Regions from separate parts of the Homo sapiens genome. Here region 1 is linked to region 2. Evidence: fine-mapped expression QTL. A gene starts in region 2. The other region holds a variant in brackets. All regions are shown on one strand. Distances are from middle to middle. Region 1 has its middle 80 kb from the start of LINC02190. Region 2 holds the start of AHSP (alpha hemoglobin stabilizing protein).

Region 1 (9,283 bases), 110 kb after region 2:
CTGACAACACACAAATACAAAGAATAATAACAGACTACTATGAACAATTATATGACAACAAATTGGATAACTTAGAAATAGATTCTTAGAAATGAATGACTCACCAAGATTAAATCACAAAAAACAGAAATACTGAACAGACCAATAATAAGAAAGGAGATTGAAGCAGTAATAAAAAATCCAATGAGAAAAAGCCCATGACCAAATGACTTCATGGGTGAATTGCATCACACATTTAAAGATGAATTAATGTCCATCCTTCTCAAATTCTTCCAAAAAATTGAAGGGAAAAAACACTGCCCCTTAGTTTGCATGTAATGAAAAGTGGGTATATAAGTACATGACTGCAGAACTGCTCCTCTCAGCACACTGCCTACAGGGGAGCCTCGCTCCACAGGAGCACTCATAGAGCTGCAACACTGCCAGCTCAATAAAGCTGTTTTCTTCTACCACTATCTTGCACTTGAATTCTTCCTGAGTGAAGCCGTGAACCTTCCCAGGATAAGCCCCAATTTGGCGGCTCACAAGCCCTGCAACAAGAGCAATTAGGTAAGAAAAAGAAATCAAAGGCACTCACATTGGCAATGAAGAATTAAAATTCTATCTGCTTGCAGATTAGGTGATTTTATATATAGAAAACCCTGAAGAGTATACACAAAGAGTTAGAGCTAATAAACTCATTCAGTAAAGCTGAGGTCACAAAATTAACATACAAAAATTAGTTGCATTTCTATATACTAACAATAAATGATCTGAGAAAAAAAGTTAAGCAAACAATCCAATTTATAATAGCATCAAAAAGTATAAAATTCTTATGATTCCATTTAACAAAGGAGGTGAAAGATCTGCTGAGTAAAATCTATAAGACATTGATGGGCCAGGCACAGTGGCTCACGTCTGTAATCCCAGCACTTTGGGAGGCCGAGGCAGGCAGATCACGAGGTCAGGAGATCAAGACCATCCTGGCTAACACGGTGAAACCCTGTCTCTACTAAAAATACAAAAAATTAGCTGGGCGTGGTGGCGGGTGCCTGTAGTCCCAGCTACTCGGGAGGCTGAGGCAGAAGAATGGCTTGAACCTGGGAGGCAGAAGTTGCAGTGAGCCAAGATTGCACCACTGCAGTCCAGCCTGGGTGACAGAGCAAGACTCCATTTCAAAAAAAAAAAAAAAAGACATAGACAAATGTCATTGAAAAAGACACAAATAAATGTAAAGATATCCCTTGTTCATGGACTGGAAAAATTAATACTGATGAAATGTCCACACTACACAAAGTGATCTACAGATACAATGTAATCCCTGTTAAAATTCCAATATCAGTTTTCACAGAAATAAAAATGAATTCTAAAATTTATTTTATTTTTTTTTAATTTTTTAATTTTTAATTTTTTTATTTTTTAAATTTTTTAAATTATACTTTAAGTTTTAGGGTACATGTGCACAATGTGCAGGTTAGTTATGTATGTATACATGTGCCATGCTGGTGTGCTGCACCCATTAACTTGTCATGTAGCATTAGGTATATCTCCTAATGCTATCCCTCCCCCCCCTACCCCCACCCCACAACAGTTCCCAGAGTGTGATGTTCCCCTTCCTGTGTCCATGTGTTCTCATCATTCAATTCCCACCTATGAGTGAGAATATGCGGTGTTTGGTTTTTTGTTCTTGCGATAGTTTACTGAGAATGATGATTTCCAATTTCATCCATGTCCCTACAAAGGACATGAACTCATCCTTTTTTATGGCTGCATAGTATTCCATGGTGTATATGTGCCACATTTTCTTAATCCAGTCTATCATTGTTGGACATTTGGGTTGGTTCCAAGTCTTTGCTATTGTGAATACTGCCACAATAAACATATGTGTGCATGTGTCTTTATAGCAGCATGATTTATAGTCCTTTGGGTATATACCCAGTAATGGGATGGCTGGGTCAAATGGTATTTCTAGTTCTAGATCCCTGAGGAATCGCCACACTGACTTCCCCAAGGGTTGAACTAGTTTACAGTCCCACCAACAGTGTAAAAGTGTTCCTATTTCTCCACATCCTCTCCAGCACCTGTTGTTTCCTGACTTTTTAATGATTGCCATTCTAACTGGTGTGAGATGGTATCTCATTGTGGTTTTGATTTGCATTTCTCTGATGGCCAGTGATGGTGAACATTTTTTCATGTGCTTTTGGCTGCATAAATGCCTTCTTTTGAGAAGTGTCTGTTCATGTCCTTTGCCCATTTTTTGATGGGTTTGTTTTTTTCTTGTAAATTTGTTTGAGTTCATTGTAGATTCTGGATATTAGCCCTTTGTCAGATGAGCAGGTTGCAAAAATTTTCTCCCATTTTGTAGGTTGCCTGTTCACTCTGCTGGTAGTTTCTTTTGCTGTGCAGAAGCTCTTTAGTTTAATTAGATCCCATTTGTCAATTTTGGCTTTTGTTGCCATTGCTTTTGGTGTTTTAGACATGAAGTCCTTGCCCATGCCTATGTCCTGAATGGTAATGCCTAGGTTTTCTTCTAGGGTTTTTATGGTTTTAGGTCTAACATTTAAGTCTTTAATCCATCTTGAATTAATTTTTGTATAAGGTGTAAGGAAAGGGATCCAGTTTCAGCTTTCTACATATGGCTAGCCAGTTTTCCCAGCAACATTTATTGAATAGGGAATCCTTTCCCCATTGCTTGTTTTTGTCAGGTTTGTCAAAGATCAGATAGTTGTAGATATGTGGCATTATTTCTGAGGGCTCTGTTCTGTTCCATTGATCTATATCTCTGTTTTGGTACCAGTACCATGCTGTTTTGGTTACTGTAGGCTTGTAGTAAGTATAGTTTGAAGTCAGATAGCTTGATGCCTCCAGCTTTGTTCTTTTGGTTTAGGATTGACTTGGTGATGCGGGCTCTTTTTTGGTTCCATATGAACTTTAAAGTAGTTTTTTCCAATTCTGTGAAGAAAGTCATTGGCAGCTTGATGGGGATGGCATTGAATCTATAAATTACCTTAGGCAGTATGGCCATTTTCACGATATTGATTCTTCCTACCCATGAGCATGGAATGTTCTTCCATTTGTTTGTATCCTCTTTTATTTCATTGAGCAGTGGTTTGTAGTTCTCCTTGAAGAGGTCCTTCACATCCCTTGTAAGTTGGATTCCTAGGTATTTTATTCTCTTCGAAGCAATTGTGAATGGGAGTTCACTCATGATTTGGCTCTCTGTCTGTTATTGGTGTATAAGAATGCTTGTGATTTTTGTACATTGATTTTGTATCCTGAGACTTTGCTGAAGTTGCTTATCAGCTTAAGGAGATTTTGGGCTGAGACAATGGGGTTTTCTAAATATACAATCATGTCGTCTGCAAACAGGGACAATTTGACTTCCTCTTTTCCTAATTGAATACCCTTTATTTCCTTCTCCTGCCTAATTGCCCTGGCCAGAACTTCCAACACTATGTTGAATAGGAGTGGTGAGAGAGGGCATCCCTGTCTTGTGCCAGTTTTCAAAGGGAATGTTTTCAGTTTTTGCCCATTCAGCATGATATTGGCTGTGGGTTTGTCATAGATAGCTCTTATTATTTTGAGATACATCCCATCAATACCTAATTTATTGAGAGTTTTTAGCATGAAGGGTTGTTGAATTTTGTCAAAGGCCTTTTCTGCATCTATTGAGATAATCATGTGGTTTTTGTCTTTGGTTCTGTTTATATGCTGGATTACATTTATTGATTTGCATATATTGAACCAGCCTTGCATCCCAGGGATGAAGCCCACTTGATCATGGTGGATAAGCTTTTTGATGTACTGCTGGATTCGTTTTGCCAGTATTTTACTGAGGATTTTTGCATCAATGTTCATAAAGGATATTGGTCTAAAATTCTCTTTTTTGGTTGTGTCTCTGCCCGGCTTTGGTATCAGGATGATGCTGGCTTCATAAAATGAGTTAGGGAGGATTCCCTCTTTTTCTATTGATTGGAATAGTTTCAGAAGCAATGGTACCAGTTCCCCCTTGTACCTCTGGTAGAATTTGGCTGTGAATCCATCTGGTCCTGGACTCTTGTTGGTTGGTAAGCTATTGATTATTGCCACAATTTCAGAGCCTGTTATTGGTCTATTCAGAGAGTCAACTTCTTCCTGGTTTAGTCTTGGGAGGGTGTATGTGTCCAGGAATTTATCCATTTCTTCTAGATTTTCTAGTTTATTTGCGTAGAGGTGTTTGTAGTATTCTCTGATGGTAGTTTGTGTTTCTGTGGGATTGGTGGTGATATCCCCTTTATCATTTTTTATTGCATCTATTTGATTCTTCTCTCTTTTCTTCTTTATTAGTCTTGCTAATGGTCTATCAATTTTGTTGATCTTTCCAAAAATCCAGCTCTTGGATTCATTAATTTTTTGAAGGGTTTTCTGTGTCTCTATTTCCTTCAGTTCTGCTCTGATTTTAGTTATTTCTTGCCTTCTGCTAGCTTTCGAATGTGTTTGCTCTTGCTTTTCTAGTTCTTTTAATTGTGATGTTAGGGTGTCAATTTTGGATCTTTCCTGCTTTCTCTTGTGGGCATTTAATGCTATAAATTTCCCTCTACACAGTGCTTTGAATGCGTCCCAGAGATTCTGGTATGTTGTGTCTTTGTTCTCGTTGGTTTCAAAGAACATCTTTATTTCTGCCTTCATTTCGTTATGTATCCAGTAGTCATTCAGGAGTAGATTGTTCGGTTTCCATGTAGTTGAGCGGTTTTGAGAGAGTTTCTTAATCCTGAGTTCTAGTTTGATTGCACTGTGGTCTGAGAGACAGTTTGTTATAATTTCCAATCTTTTACATTTGCTGAGGAGAGCTTTACTTCCAATTATGTGGTCAATTTTGGAATAGGTGTGGTGTGGTGCTGAAAAAAATGTATATTATGCTGATTTCGGGTGGAGTGTTCTGTAGACATCTATTAGGTCTGCTTGGTGCAGAGCTGAGTTCACTTCCTGGGTATCCTTATTAACTTTCTGTCTTGTTGATCTGTCTAATGTTGACAGTGGGGTGTTAAAGTCTCCCATTATTATTGTGTGGGAGTCTAAGTCTCTTTGTAGGTCACTAAGCACTTGCTTTATGAATCTGGGTGCTCCTGTATTGGGTGCATATATATTTAGGATAGTTAGCTCTTCTTGTTGAATTGATCCCTTTACCATTATGTAATGGCCTTCTTTGTCTGTTTTGATCTTTGTTGGTTTAAAGTCTGTTTTATCAGAGACTAGGATTGCAACCCCTGCCTTTTTTTGTTTTCCATTTGCTTGGTAGATCTTCCTTCATCCTTTTATTTTGAGCCTATGTGTGTCTCTGCACATGAGATGGGTTTCCTGAATACAGCACACTGATGGGTCTTGACTCCTTATCCAATTTGCCAGTCTGTGTCTTTTAATTGGAGCATTTAGTCCATTTACATTTAAAGTTAATATTGTTATGTGTGAATTTGATCCTGTCATTATGATGTTAGCTGGTTATTTTGCTCGTTAGTTGATGCAGTTTTTTCC[T/C]AGCCTCGATGGTCTTTACATTTTGGCATGATTTTGCAGTGGCTGGTACCAGTTGTTCCTTTCCATGTTTAGTGCTTCCTTCAGGAGCTCTTTTAGGGCAGGCCTGGTGGTGACAAAATCTCTCAGCATTTGCTTGTCTGTAAAGGATTTTATTTCTCCTTCACTTATGAAGCTTAGTTTGGCTGGATATGAAATTCTGGGTTGAAAATTCTTTTCTTTAAGAATGTTGAATATTGGCCCCCACTCTCTTCTGGCTTGTAGAGTTTCTGCCGAGAGATCCGCTGTTAGTCTGATGGGCTTCCCTTTGTGGGTAACCCGACCTTTCTCTCTGGCTGCCCTTAACATATTTTCCTTCATTTCAACTTTGGTGAATCTGACAATTATGTGTCTTGGAGTTGCTTTTCTCGAGGAGTATCTTTGTGGCATTCTCTGTATTTCCTGAATCTGAATGTTGGCCTGCCTTGCTAGATTGGGGAAGTTCTCCTGGATAATATCCTACAGAGTGTTTTCCAACTTGCTTCCATTCTCCCTGTCACTTTCAGGTACACCAATCAGATGTAGATTTGGTCTTTTCACATAGTCCCATATTTCTTGGAGGCTTTGTTCATTTCTTTTTATTCTTTTTTCTCTAAACTTCCCTTCTCTCTTCATTTCATTCATTTCATCTTCCATCACTGATACCCTTTCTTCCAGTTGATCACATTGGCTCCTGAGGCTTCTGCATTCTTCACGTAGTTCTCGAGCCTTGGCTTTCAGCTCCATCAGCTCCTTTAAGCACTTCTCTGTATTGGTTATTCTAGTTATACATTTGTCTAAATTTTTTTCAAAGTTTTCAACTTCTTTGCCTTTGGTTTGAATTTCCTCCTGTAGCTCGGAGTAGTCTGATGGTCTGAAGACTTCTTCTCTCAACTCATCAAAATCATTCTCCATCCAGCTTTGTTCCGTTGCTGGTGAGGAGCTGCGTTCCTTTGGAGGAGGAGAGGTGCTCTGCTTTTTAGAGTTTCCAGTTTTGCTGCTCTGTTTTTTCCCCATCTTTGTGGTTTTATCTACTTTTGGTCTTTGATCATGGTGATGTACAGATGGGTTTTTGGTGTGGATGTCCTTTCTGTTTGTTAGTTTTCCTTCTAACAGACAGGACCCTCAGCTGCAGGTCTGTTGGAGTTTGCTAGAGGTCCACTCCAGACCCTGTTTGCTTGGGTACCAGCAGCGGTGCCTGAAGAACAGCGGATTTTCGTGAACCGCGAATGCTGCTGTCTGATCGTTCCTCTGGAAGTTTTGTCTCAGAGGAGTACCCGGCCGTGTGAGGTGTCAGTCTGCCCCTACTGGGGGGTGCCTCCCAGTTAGGCTGCTCGGGGGTCAGGGGTCAGGGACCCACTTGAGGAGGCAGTCTGCCCGTTCTCAGATCTCCAGCTGCGTGCTGGGAGAACCACTGCTCTCTTCAAAGCTGTCAGACAGGGACATTTAAGTCTGCAGAGGTTACTGCTGTCTTTTTGTTTGTCTGTGTTCTGCCCCCAGAGGTGGAGCCTACAGAGGCAGGCAGGCATCCTTGAGCTATGGGGGGCTCCACCCAGTTCGAGCTTCCTGGCTGCTTTGTTTACCTAAGCAAGCCTGGGCAATGGTGGGCACCACTCCCCCAGCCTCGCTGCCACCTTGCAGTTTGATCTCAGACTGCTATGCTAGCAATCAGCGAGACTCAGTGGGCGTAGGACCCTCTGAGCCAGGTGTGGGATATAATCTCCTGGTGCGCCGTTTTTTAAGCCCATCGGAAAAGCGCAGTATTGGGGTGGGAGTGACCTGATTTTCCAGGTGCTGTCTGTCACCCCTTTCTTTGACTAGGAAAGGGAACTCCCTGACCCCTTGCGCTTCCTGAGTGAGGCAATGCCTCGCCCTGCTTTGGCTCCCGCACGGTACGCTGCACTCACTGTCTTGCGCCCACTGTCTGGCACTCCCTAGTGAGATGAACCCAGTACCTCAGATGGAAATGCAGAAATCACCTGTCTTCTGTGTTGCTCACGCTGGGAGCTGTAGACCGGAGCTGTTCCTATTCAGCCATCTTGGCTCCAGAACCAATATGTTTTCTTTTTTTGTTTTTGTTTTTTTTTTCTGAGATGGAGTCTCGCTCTGTTGCCCAGGCTGGAGTGCAATGGCATAATCTCGGCTCAGTGCAACCTCTACCTCCTGGGTTCAAGTATTTCTCCTGCCTCAGCCTCCTGAGTAGCTGGGATTACAGGCACGCACCACCATGCCTGGCTAATTTTTGTATTTTTAGTAGAAATGGGGTTTCACCATGTTGGTCAGGCTGGTCTCAAATTCCTGACCTTGTGATCCACCCGTCTTGACCTCCCAAAGTGTTGGGATTACAGGCATGAGCCACCACACCCAACCCATAATATTTAATATTTATTGATATTATAACATGCATACAGAATTGCATGCATGCACAAAGCATTTATGTAAAGGTCCATGTATAATTAGAAAGTAAATACCAACCGGGCACGTTGACTCATGCCTGTCATCCCAGCACTTTGGGAGGCTGAGGCAGGTGGATCATCTGACTTCTGGAGTTTGAGACCAGCCTGGACAATATGGTGAAACCCTGTCTTTACTAAAAGTACAAAATTAGCTGGGCGCATGCCTGTAGTCCCAGCTACTCAGGAGGCTGAGACAGGAGAATCACGTGATCCCAGGAGGCGGAAGTTGCAGTGAGCTGAGCTTGCACCACTGCACTCCAGCCTGGGCGATAGAGTGAGACTCCGTTTCAAAGAAAAAGAAAGAAGAAAAGAAAGAAAGAAGAAATGGAAAGGAAGGAAGAATGGAAGGAAGAAAGAGGGAGGGAAGAGACAAATCTTCCTGACAGAGGAATTTCAACAATTAAGTTGAAATATAGTTTAGTGTTTGTGTAGAGATTTTGATTCTTGCAATACCCCGTATCTTTCCCAAAGTTACTTGGGTCAGGACTTTTCATCTCCAACCCCGGTGAAATAGTCAGTATGTCATACATTTGGAATATAGCTTAATTCATCTGTCATTGTCTATATTCTATCTGAATTTCTTCAGCAACTTGGTCTATTAAAAAAAATTTGTTTTGGGATGGAGTTTTGCTCTGTTGCCCAGGCTGGAGTGCAATGGCACAATCTCAGCTCAGTGCAACCTCCACCTCCGGGGTTCAAGCAATTCTCCTGCTTCAGCCTCCCAAGTAGCTTACAGGGATTACAGGTGCCCGCCACCATGCCCAGCTAATTTTTGTATTTCAGAGATGGAGTTTCACCATGTTGTCCAGGCTGGTCTTGAACTCCTGACCTCAGGTGTACCACCCACCTCGGCCTCTCAAAGTGCTGGGATTACAGGCATGAGCCACTGCACCCGGCCTGATTTTTTAAAAATTTTATACAGAAAAATTTGTTCTTTGTGGTGTACAGTTCAACAGGTTTTAACAATGGTCTAGAGTCATCTTTCACCACTGGAGTACCACACAGAACTTTTTTTCACCCACCAAATTTCTTTTATGCTGTCCCTTTCAGTAAACAACTTTCCCCATCCCTTCCTTTCGCCACTACTGCTCATTTTCCATCTCTATAATTTTGCTCTTTCTTACAATGCTCTATAAATAGATTTACATAATTTACAGTTGTCTCTCAGTATATATGGTGGATTTTTTCAAATCCCTGCAAATATGAAAATCTGTAGATGCTCAATGCCTTATATAAAATGGTACACTATTTTTATATAACCTATGCACATGAACTTTAAGTCATATCTAGGCTACTTATAATACCTAATGCAATGTAAATGC
Region 2 (9,283 bases):
TAATTTTAGCAGTCATGACGTACATGGCCTCAAGGGAGTTCCAGAGGATGTTTTAGGCTCCAGGAGCCATTTAAGGGATGTTTCTTTCCAAAGAAAATGTTCATGTCATGAATTTTATTCCACTAACATAATCTGAACATACGGGTCTACCTTTAAATAATGGGCCAGATGACCCCTGTTTATCTAGGAGTGCAGTCTTCTGTCAGGGCAGATGTCCTTTCTACTGTGGAGAATTGCATTTTGAGACCCTATGAGTCTGAGCATATCTGTAAGGGGCTGCTGCTGTCTATTATTAGGGCGGCCTCTTTAGCTTTGGCTCTACACCATGTGGCTTGAAGATTTTCCTTGAATTTGACCTGAGCCCCTGACCCCACCCACATTGCTGGGGAGGAGGGGCCCGTTCTGGACTCTGGCACCTGTAACTCCTGACCCCCGGTCTTGCTTGCAGCGGAAAAGGAGAGGCAGAAGAGGGAGGTGCACACTCAGCCACTCTGGGCATCCTTCCTGGGTGGACTGGGCCCCCTGCAGGGCCTGCTCTCACCTACCCAGGAGCACAGCTGATCTCGGCTGGGTCTCCCTCAGCACACTCAGGATGTGTGGGGCAGGTGTCTGCGAGTCCCCGGGGGACTCAGGTTCCTGGCCAGTCTCACTGCCCCCTGCCCCAGCATTGAGACCCTCATGTGGCTGCAGATGTGGCTGATAGTGCCAATCAAGGGAGCCTCTGTCTTCCCAAACTTAAATTTCCCCTCCCATAACCTATAACTTCAGCCCCCTCCATTTTCTGAGCTAAGCTCCAATTAGTGAAAACAAAGTCAAGTGGGAGTCAGGGGACAGGAAAGTGGCCCAGGGGTGGGGCAGAAGAGGGGGAAGGGACAAGTCTCTCTCGAATGGATCCAGAGTGAGCTCCTCCCTCTTGCGAGTAGCCATGCTGCCAAGACGCTGACCTTCAGATGCGCAAGGCTCATGTCTCCTCCCCAGCCCTGGGACCCTCTGGAGGCTGCAGGTCCTGATTGCTGTGCCAGTCACAGCAGGAACAGGCCCCAAAAACGTCACATCTCCAGGAAATAAGACCAAGGTTCCACCTAACCAGTTCAGCTCTCACCTCCCTCCCAAAATGTTCACAGGGGAAACCATGGGCCAAACTATGTAACATGAAATCTACAACCTTTTTGCCCTGACTCCAACCTGGTACTGCCACGAGCAAGTCAGGGTTTTGCGTTGACTGAGTGGGATTTGGGTCATCAATTCCAATCAGATTTCTGGAGAAGGCTCTTCTTTCCCTGATGATTGAGGTCTTCATTGCAGTCCTCTCGGTGGAAGGAGAGGCCTTCCTGGAAGTCCAAACAGTTCTCTTTTCCTCCCTCTGGCTAATTTCTTGTTCAGCTGAAGCAGAGCCTGCCTCGATGAGGGAGTTCCTATTAGGTTTCTTAATTTTTAAGAGACATCACCAGAAGTGAATTCCTCTGTAAATCAGCAGTGCTTTATTTTTCTGTTGCAGAATGAGTTTGTGATCCTGGTTTTCTACAATTCTTTAGCAAATGTGTTTTTGTAATCTCACGTTCAACCCTTCCTTTATTGATGTATCTAGCATGCTGAAAGGGAATCAGTTTCCCCTGCTATTCTCAAGACACTGGTTGAGGGAGGAGACTTCAATTCTTCACTACATCTCACTAATTTTACTCTGCAATTCATTATAGTCCAGGTAGTTAGATTAGTTCCAACTGTGCCAGGAAATTTTGAGGAATGAACAAAATTAGATTTTTTTTTCCTTTTTTTTTTAAAAGATGGGGTCTCACTATGTTGCCCAGGCTGGTCTTGAACCCTTGGGCTCAGACGATCCTGCCGTCTCTGCCTCTTACAGGCATGAGCCACTGTGCGTGGCTTCAATGTTAGATGTGTTCTTGGCAGCATGGTCTTCTAAGCCATCTGAGGCAGCACCATCTCTTTTGAGTTTCCTGGCATGTACCAGAGACCTTCCTGAAACTTTTCCTTAATGAGCTTTGGAAGGGCATTGGGATCTTGATCTTTCCCATCTGGTAATGAATTATTTTTAAAGAAATATTTAAGAAAAATTATTTAGAAGTGAAAGGATGTAGGAGACAGTCGGCCTGGTGTGATGTGAGAAAGACTGGACCTGGTGGTCATTGCTGGCTTTCAAGCTGGAAAGGGACCAGGAGTGAAAGAATGTGGGTTCTTCTATAGACTAGAAGAGGAAAGAAAAAGAACTCTTTTTCAGAGATTCCAAGGGGAACACAGCCTAGAGGACAACTTAATTTTAGCCTAGTGAGTCTCATTTTAGATTTCTGACCTCTAAGTCTGTAAGATAATAAATTTATTTATTTATTTATTTATTTAGAGACAAGGTCTCACTCTGTCACCCAGGCTGGAGTGCAGTGGCGTGATCTTCGCTCACTGCGGCCTCTTCCTCCTGGGTTCAAGCGATTCTCCTGCCTCAGCCTCCCAAGTAGCTGGGATTACAGGTGCATGCCACCATGTCTGGCTAATTTTTGTATTTTTAGTAGAGAGGGGGTTTCGCCATGTTAGCCAGGATGGTCTCGAACTCCTGACCTCAAGTGATCTGCCTGCCTTGACCTCCCAAAGTGCTGGGATCACAGATGGGAGCCACCGTGCCTGGCCGGTAACACATACTTTCCACCCTATATAAATGAAAACATGTTCACATGGAAACCTGTACACAAATGTTTATAGCAACTCTATTCACACTTGCCCCAAAGTACAAACAATCCAGATGTCCTTCCGTGGCTGAATGAACAAACTACAGTGCATCCATACAATGCAATGTGTCCACTGACACTTGTGACAACTTGGATGGAGCTCAAGAACATCATGCTGACCAAAAAAAGTCAGTCTCAAAGGTTACATACTGTATGATTCCATTTATATGACATCCTGAAAAAGGCTTAACTGTAGTGATGAACAGATAAGTGGTTGCCAGAAGTTATGGGTGAGGGTAGGGGTGGCTACAAAAGGGTAACGTGAAGGAGTGGTTTTTGGGTGACAGAAACATTCTGTATCTTAACTGCGTTTGTAGTTACACAAATCTGTTATAAAATTAATAAACTAGGCCAGATGCGGTAGCTCACACCTGTAATCCCAGCACTTTGGGAGGCCAAGGTGGGTCGATCACTTGAGGTCAGGAGTTCGAGACTAGCCTGGCCAACATGGTGAAACCCCATCTCTACTAAAATACAAAAATTAGCTAGGCGTGGTGATGCACGCCTGTAATCCCAGCTACTTGGGAGGCTGAGGCAGGAGAATCGCCTGAACCTGGGAGGTAAAGTTTGCAGTGAGCTGAGATCGCATCACTGCACTCCAGCCTGGGCCACAGAGGGAGACTCCCTCTCAAAAAAAAAAAATTTAATATACTGTACACCAAAAGGAAGTCAGTTTTGCTGTATATTGATTAAAAAATGCTACAACCAAAAAGGCAAATCAACAAAGCTTTATGAGTGTATAGGCACCTATGAATGTTGGGTTTTGAATGGAAAAAAAAAGTGACAGGAAATATACAATGTTTAATGCTGGTTACTTTGGAGGGGGCAAAAATGATTCAGTTTTTCAGTGTACGTTTTTGTATTGTTTTAATTATTTCAATTAGTATATAGTGATTTTGAAATTTGAGAAACATCTACTGAAAATGGAAAATATCTGGAAAAATATTTAAAAAGAGGAAAAAGAGTATTTCTGCTTTATTGGGTACCTGTTGACAGGGTAGTAAACAAGACAAATCCATCTCCATTCTTTTTTTTCTTTTGAGATGGAGTCTCGCCCTGTCACCCAGGCTGGAGTGCTGTGGTGTGATCTTGGCTCACTGCAACCTCTGCCTCCTGGGTTCAAGCGATTTTCGTGCCTCAGCCTCCCAAGTAGCTGAGACTACAGGTGCCCGCCACCACGCCCGGCTATTTATCTCCATTCTTATGGAGCACAGCGTGGTGGAGTTCAGTCCACACGCTTACAGGTGGCTTATCTGCAAAATGTGTCTAAAAAGAAATTTTATAGGATAAATATTTTGTACATGTTTGAAACAGTGCTTGGCACAAATGAATAAATGTAATGCAAGCTGCTATTAATACATCATCTCCGAATTGGGAGAATCATTGCGATCACATCGTTGTGATTACACAAAAGCCTCTGTCATGTAATAGGGCTCAGTAAACGTCAATTTCCATAGCATTTCGAGCCTGGATACTGAAATATGGGGCAAAAAGCAGGAACATGCCCCTGGTTTGGCTCTTGCCTTCTTGCATTTCCTGGGTTTCCTCATTTATCTTTTTTTTTTTTTTTTTTGGCCTTGTTATCTTTCTACCTTCAGGGAAGCCTCTCCCTTCTTCTCCTCCCTAGAATGACCTATCACCCTCCTTCAGGACCTAGATGCAGGGCGTTTCTATCTTAGGCTGACACTTGACTCCTTGCCTACATCTATAGCTTGGCACAGAGAGATTCACGCACCCTCAAGAGTGTGGGTGAGACATATACAGCCTGTTAGACCTGAAGGTGAGCCCAACCTGGGAAAATCGTGACCTCAGAGCAGGGCAGGATGTGAAAGGTTTTGGAAAGGAGATAGCCCTGCAGGGCAGGAGGGATTTTTAAGGGGAGGAAGTGGGTTGGGGGAAATACCCAGTGAGGAGGGAAACAGATATGTAAATTCTACCCTTTTCTCTACCCAGGCAGATGGCTCTTCTTAAGGCCAATAAGGATCTCATTTCCGCAGGATTGAAGGAGTTCAGCGTTCTGCTGAATCAGCAGGTGAGTCCAAGCTTTCCATTTCAAAGGACTGGCCTGGAGACTGGGGGGTGCCGGGGAAGTGGAGGAAGAGGATAATTGGAGCTGGTGAAGTAATGGTGGAGTTGATGGAAACAACGAGAGACACGGGATACAATGCAGAGGAAAGAGAATGTGAGAGTTGGTGCTGTGGCACTATTCTAGTATTCCCGAATCCCATTGCTGACCACATTCTCCCTTGCCAACTGCCTCTCCGCAACCCCCCAGGTCTTCAATGATCCTCTCGTCTCTGAAGAAGACATGGTGACTGTGGTGGAGGACTGGATGAACTTCTACATCAACTATTACAGGCAGCAGGTGACAGGGGAGCCCCAAGAGCGAGACAAGGCTCTGCAGGAGCTTCGGCAAGAGCTGAACACTCTGGCCAACCCTTTCCTGGCCAAGTACAGGGACTTCCTGAAGTCTCATGAGCTCCCGAGTCACCCACCGCCCTCCTCCTAGCTCAGGGACCCAGCCCCTCCTCTCTGAGAAACTCTGACCTTCATGTCCTTAGGCTGTGCTCCTGCCACTCTACCCTGACACCTCAATAAAGACCAGTGCTGGTTTTGTTGGACTTCCTGGCTTCTCTTTCATGGTCTGTCCTGACATGTGGAGGCACTCGGTCCCTTTCCTTCCGCCCTCCTTCTTAGATATGCTCTTGGAAGCTTAATTCCTTACAGCAGAGGTTAGCAGCCTTGAGTGACCACCGGGCAGCGATTCTAAACTAAAACAGGCTGAACGAGGGCCAGGAAGGCGGGACTAGAGAGAGTGCAGAGCTGCAGGGGAGGGGGTGGCAGAAACAAGAAAGGGGGATAGAAGTCCTCCAGACATTGTCCTGTGACCTGCTTGTCGAGGAGGAAACTGTTGGAAGTCTCCCAGTCTTGTTCATCCTGCGCCAGGTCCACCGCCTCGACTTTTCAATCCCCTGTCCTTAGCCCCAGCTCAAACTACATTCTAGGATCTTCGGACTCTGACTACCGCAAAATACCTCCCCGGAGCCCCAGGCATCGCAGGAATTTAGAGTTGGAAGGGATCCTGGGAACCCTTTAGCGCGCCCCTTATATTTCAGGAGGGGAAGCCACTTCCCTTTGGCTCCAACATCCCTGGGCGCAGATGCCAGGATTGGGAAGCAGAGGAATCCGCCTTCCCCCCACCCCAAGCTTCTCAGATCAATTCCCGGTCTAGCTCCCTTTCTCCCAGACCTCCAGACTCGAAGCCTCTATTTTAGGGCTCTGGGCGGAACCAGGGACGGGCCAGACTCAAGAGCTTTTTAAAAACGAAATGAAGGTGTTAGACCCGCGGCGCAGTCTCCAGGAAAAGCCTCCACGCGCAGAGGGGAGGGCCCTCCGGGGGAGGGTGCGCGGGGCGGGGGCGCGCGGGGGGAGGGGGTTCCCGGGGTGCTGAGCGGGGGCGGGGGTGCGCGGGGCGGGGGCGCGGCTAGGAGGCGCCGCACAGCAATCAGACGCGGCTCAGGGTGCGCGCGGGGAGCTGGAGGGCGCAGTTCTGGACCTTTTCGGTGTTCTCTCTAACGCGGGAAAAGTTTGGGGCCCAGAGGGATTGCTCCTCGTTCCAACCTCCAGCAAGCTTTCCTCTGGGACTTGTGAACCGACTGTTGTTTTGTAGGTCTCTGCAGCCTGGATCAGGGTGGAAAGGGAACCCGCTCAGTGTCCCCAGCGGTGCTTCCAACCCTGGGGTGTGGTCGGCCCTAGATCCAGCTTGGGAGAGTGGCGCCTCCCAGGGAAGCAGGCGGCGAGCTCCTCTGGGTTGGGGTCGGTGGTCCAGGCAGAGTCTGGGGCCTTCTCCACGGCACCTCTCAGGAAATCTCAGTCTGTGAGTGAGGACCAGAGCCCGCTCAGGCGGGACAGTAGTCGGCAGCCTCACCTTTGCAAGAGAGACCTGGCCTGGTGTGTGTGGGTGGAGGAAAGTGAGTGGGGGACGCTAGGAGAGCGCACAGCACAACGCTCCGGTGCCTTATGCAGAATGGCGAAATGTTTGCATGTAACCCACGCACATCTCTTCGTGGACTTCACATCATGGCTAGATTACTTACAATACCGACTACAACGTCAATGCTGTGCAAATAGTTGTTACACTGTATTATTTAGGGAGTAACGACAAGAAAAAAAGCCTGTACATGTTCAGTACAGAGGCAACCATCCATTTTTCTCCCCAAATATTTTCCATCCTTGGTTGGTTGAATCCACAGATGCGGAACCCACAGATACGGAGGGACCACTGTATTTGTCTTTCAGCTTAGCTGAAAAGAATGTTAGAAGCCGCTTTGGCTCAATTCATGAAGAGGAATTTTCCATACCTTTATAACTATCCAGCTATGGGAGCTGCTGAGCTAAGCACTTCTCAGGTGCTCAAAGGAAAATGACCAATTACAGGTGTAAGGTAGAAAAGATTCTCACTGGGAAGTTCAACATTGAAACTCCATTCCGACCATTCCATAAGCTTGTGCAATTGAGAAGCTGCAAAAAATATTTTTAAGACAGAAAAATCTGTTACCTGCACTTTCTGCTCTCATATTACTATCAACGAAGTGACTGGTTATAAATCTACAAGAAGTAAAATTGGGGATATTTTGATTTTTCAGAGACGGTGATATGAACCTGATGGTTCATAATAATAAAAATAAAATAACTAAAGCAGAGAGTGCCCCAAATCCATTACTGTTCCTGAAGGAAAATAAATTAGAATTAGTAAGAATAACCTTCTTTTGCTTAGCAGTATCTGAATTAATACTAGAAATAAGATTGTAAATAAATGGTAAAACATTATAGCCATAACCCTGCCCTTATCCTCACCCTCATATTGAACCTGACCTAGAGCTGACCCTGAACTTGAGCCTCACCTCTAGCTTCATCTTGCCCCTGATCATAATGGACACCTTGCCCTCACAATGACCCTGACTCTCACACTGACATTGCCTCTCATTCTCATTCTTATACTGATCCTGATGCTGAATTGGACCCTAAACTTTACCTGATCCTAATTTTCACCCTGTCTCTGACCCTCAACCTGAATCCTACCCTGACCCTTACCCTGAAATTGACCTTCACTGACCCTTCCCTTAGCATGATGTTGACTCTGACCCTCACTATGACCCTGACCCTTGATCCTCAACTTGACCTAGACAGTGATCATAATTATGACTTTTTTTTTTTTTAAAGAGGCAGGGTCTTGCTCTGTCACCCAGGCTGTAGTGCAGTGGTGCCAGCATGGCTCACAGCAACTTTGACCTCCAGAGCTCAAGCGATCCTCCTACCTCAGCTTCCTGAGTAGCTGGGACCACAGGTGCATGCCACTATGCCTGGCTATTTTTTTTTGTATTTTTTGTAGAGATGGGGTCTCACTATGTTGTCCATGCTGGTCTTGAACCCCTGGCCTCAAGCAAGCCTCCCACCTTAGCCTCCCAAAGCACTGGGACTACAGGTGTGAGCCACTGCACCTGGCCTTTAACCATGACTCTTGACCCTGAAGCATACACTCTCACCTTGACTCTGACCTTGCTCTCGTTCTGACACCACCCCCTCCTTCACACCTGAGCCTTACCCTGGTGCTCACTCTCACCTTGCATCTGACTGTGACACTCACCAGACCCTGATCCTGACTGTCACTTACACACTCTATCTCGTTCTCACCCTGACCCTGATTCTGTACTTGACCCGGACCCTCACTTTTGCCTTCAGTTTTAGCATCACCCTTAATCCCAACCGAACATTGAAGCTAACCCTACAGTGGCACTCAACTTGACCCTCCCCTGGCCTGGAAATCTTAATGTCACCATAACCCTCATCATGACCATAAATCTGACCCTTACCTGACCCTGACTCTGCTGCTTACTTTCCACTGACCCTGACTTGACCCTTATGGTCTCCTTGATCCTGACCTCACCCTGACTCTATAAGGACCCTTATCCATACCTTCACCATGTCCTTGAACCTGCTGTGAATCTGAAACTTATGCTGAGCCTGAACTACACACTCAGCCTGACCCTGGCACTAAGTCTTTCTCACTCTGTGATGAACTCTGACCCTGAAACTGACTCTGACCCTCGCCCTGACCCAGGCTTTGAATGTTTGCCTCACACTCCTTATCCTCACTCTGACACTGACCCCCACTCTGATCCTCACGATGACTCTCAGCTGGACTTTGACCCTGGAACATGACCCTTACCCTCATCAAGACTCAGCAATTTGCTCACACCTGTAGTCCTGGCACTTTGGGAGGCTGAGTTGAGAGGATCACTTGAGGTCAGGCATTTGAGACTAGCCTGGGCAACACAGCAAGACACCCCACCCCCATCTGTACAACAAAATATTCACATTGCATTACAAATGTCTGCTACATCATTGTAGTAAATTCTTTCTTTTTACTCCTATTAGTAGCTGCAACACGTTCTTATGATAAAACTCTGTGCCCAATTCTGACCACTGGAACAAGCTGGACACATCTGGCTTCTTTTTTTTTTTTTTTTTTTTTTTTTTGAGACGGA

What was found. PIP is the estimated chance that this variant, and not a neighbour inherited with it, causes the effect. A credible set is the group of variants that fine-mapping cannot tell apart.
Region 1: its variant is the best candidate, but not a certain one, in a credible set for the expression of AHSP in whole blood (INTERVAL, PIP 0.77).

What each region holds. Positions count from the first base shown.
Region 1 is chr16:31,628,467-31,637,749 of GRCh38, forward strand. No RefSeq gene overlaps it. Among named protein-coding and RNA genes, the nearest start is that of LINC02190, 80 kb to the left of the region's middle. The variant T/C (reference allele first, on the strand shown) is at 5,491.
Region 2 is chr16:31,523,448-31,532,730 of GRCh38, forward strand. AHSP (alpha hemoglobin stabilizing protein) reads left to right here and starts at 4,453. Exons shown (of 3, transcript NM_016633.4): 1 at 4,453-4,515; 2 at 4,689-4,767; 3 at 5,011-5,356. The coding sequence starts at 4,693. The coding sequence ends at 5,244.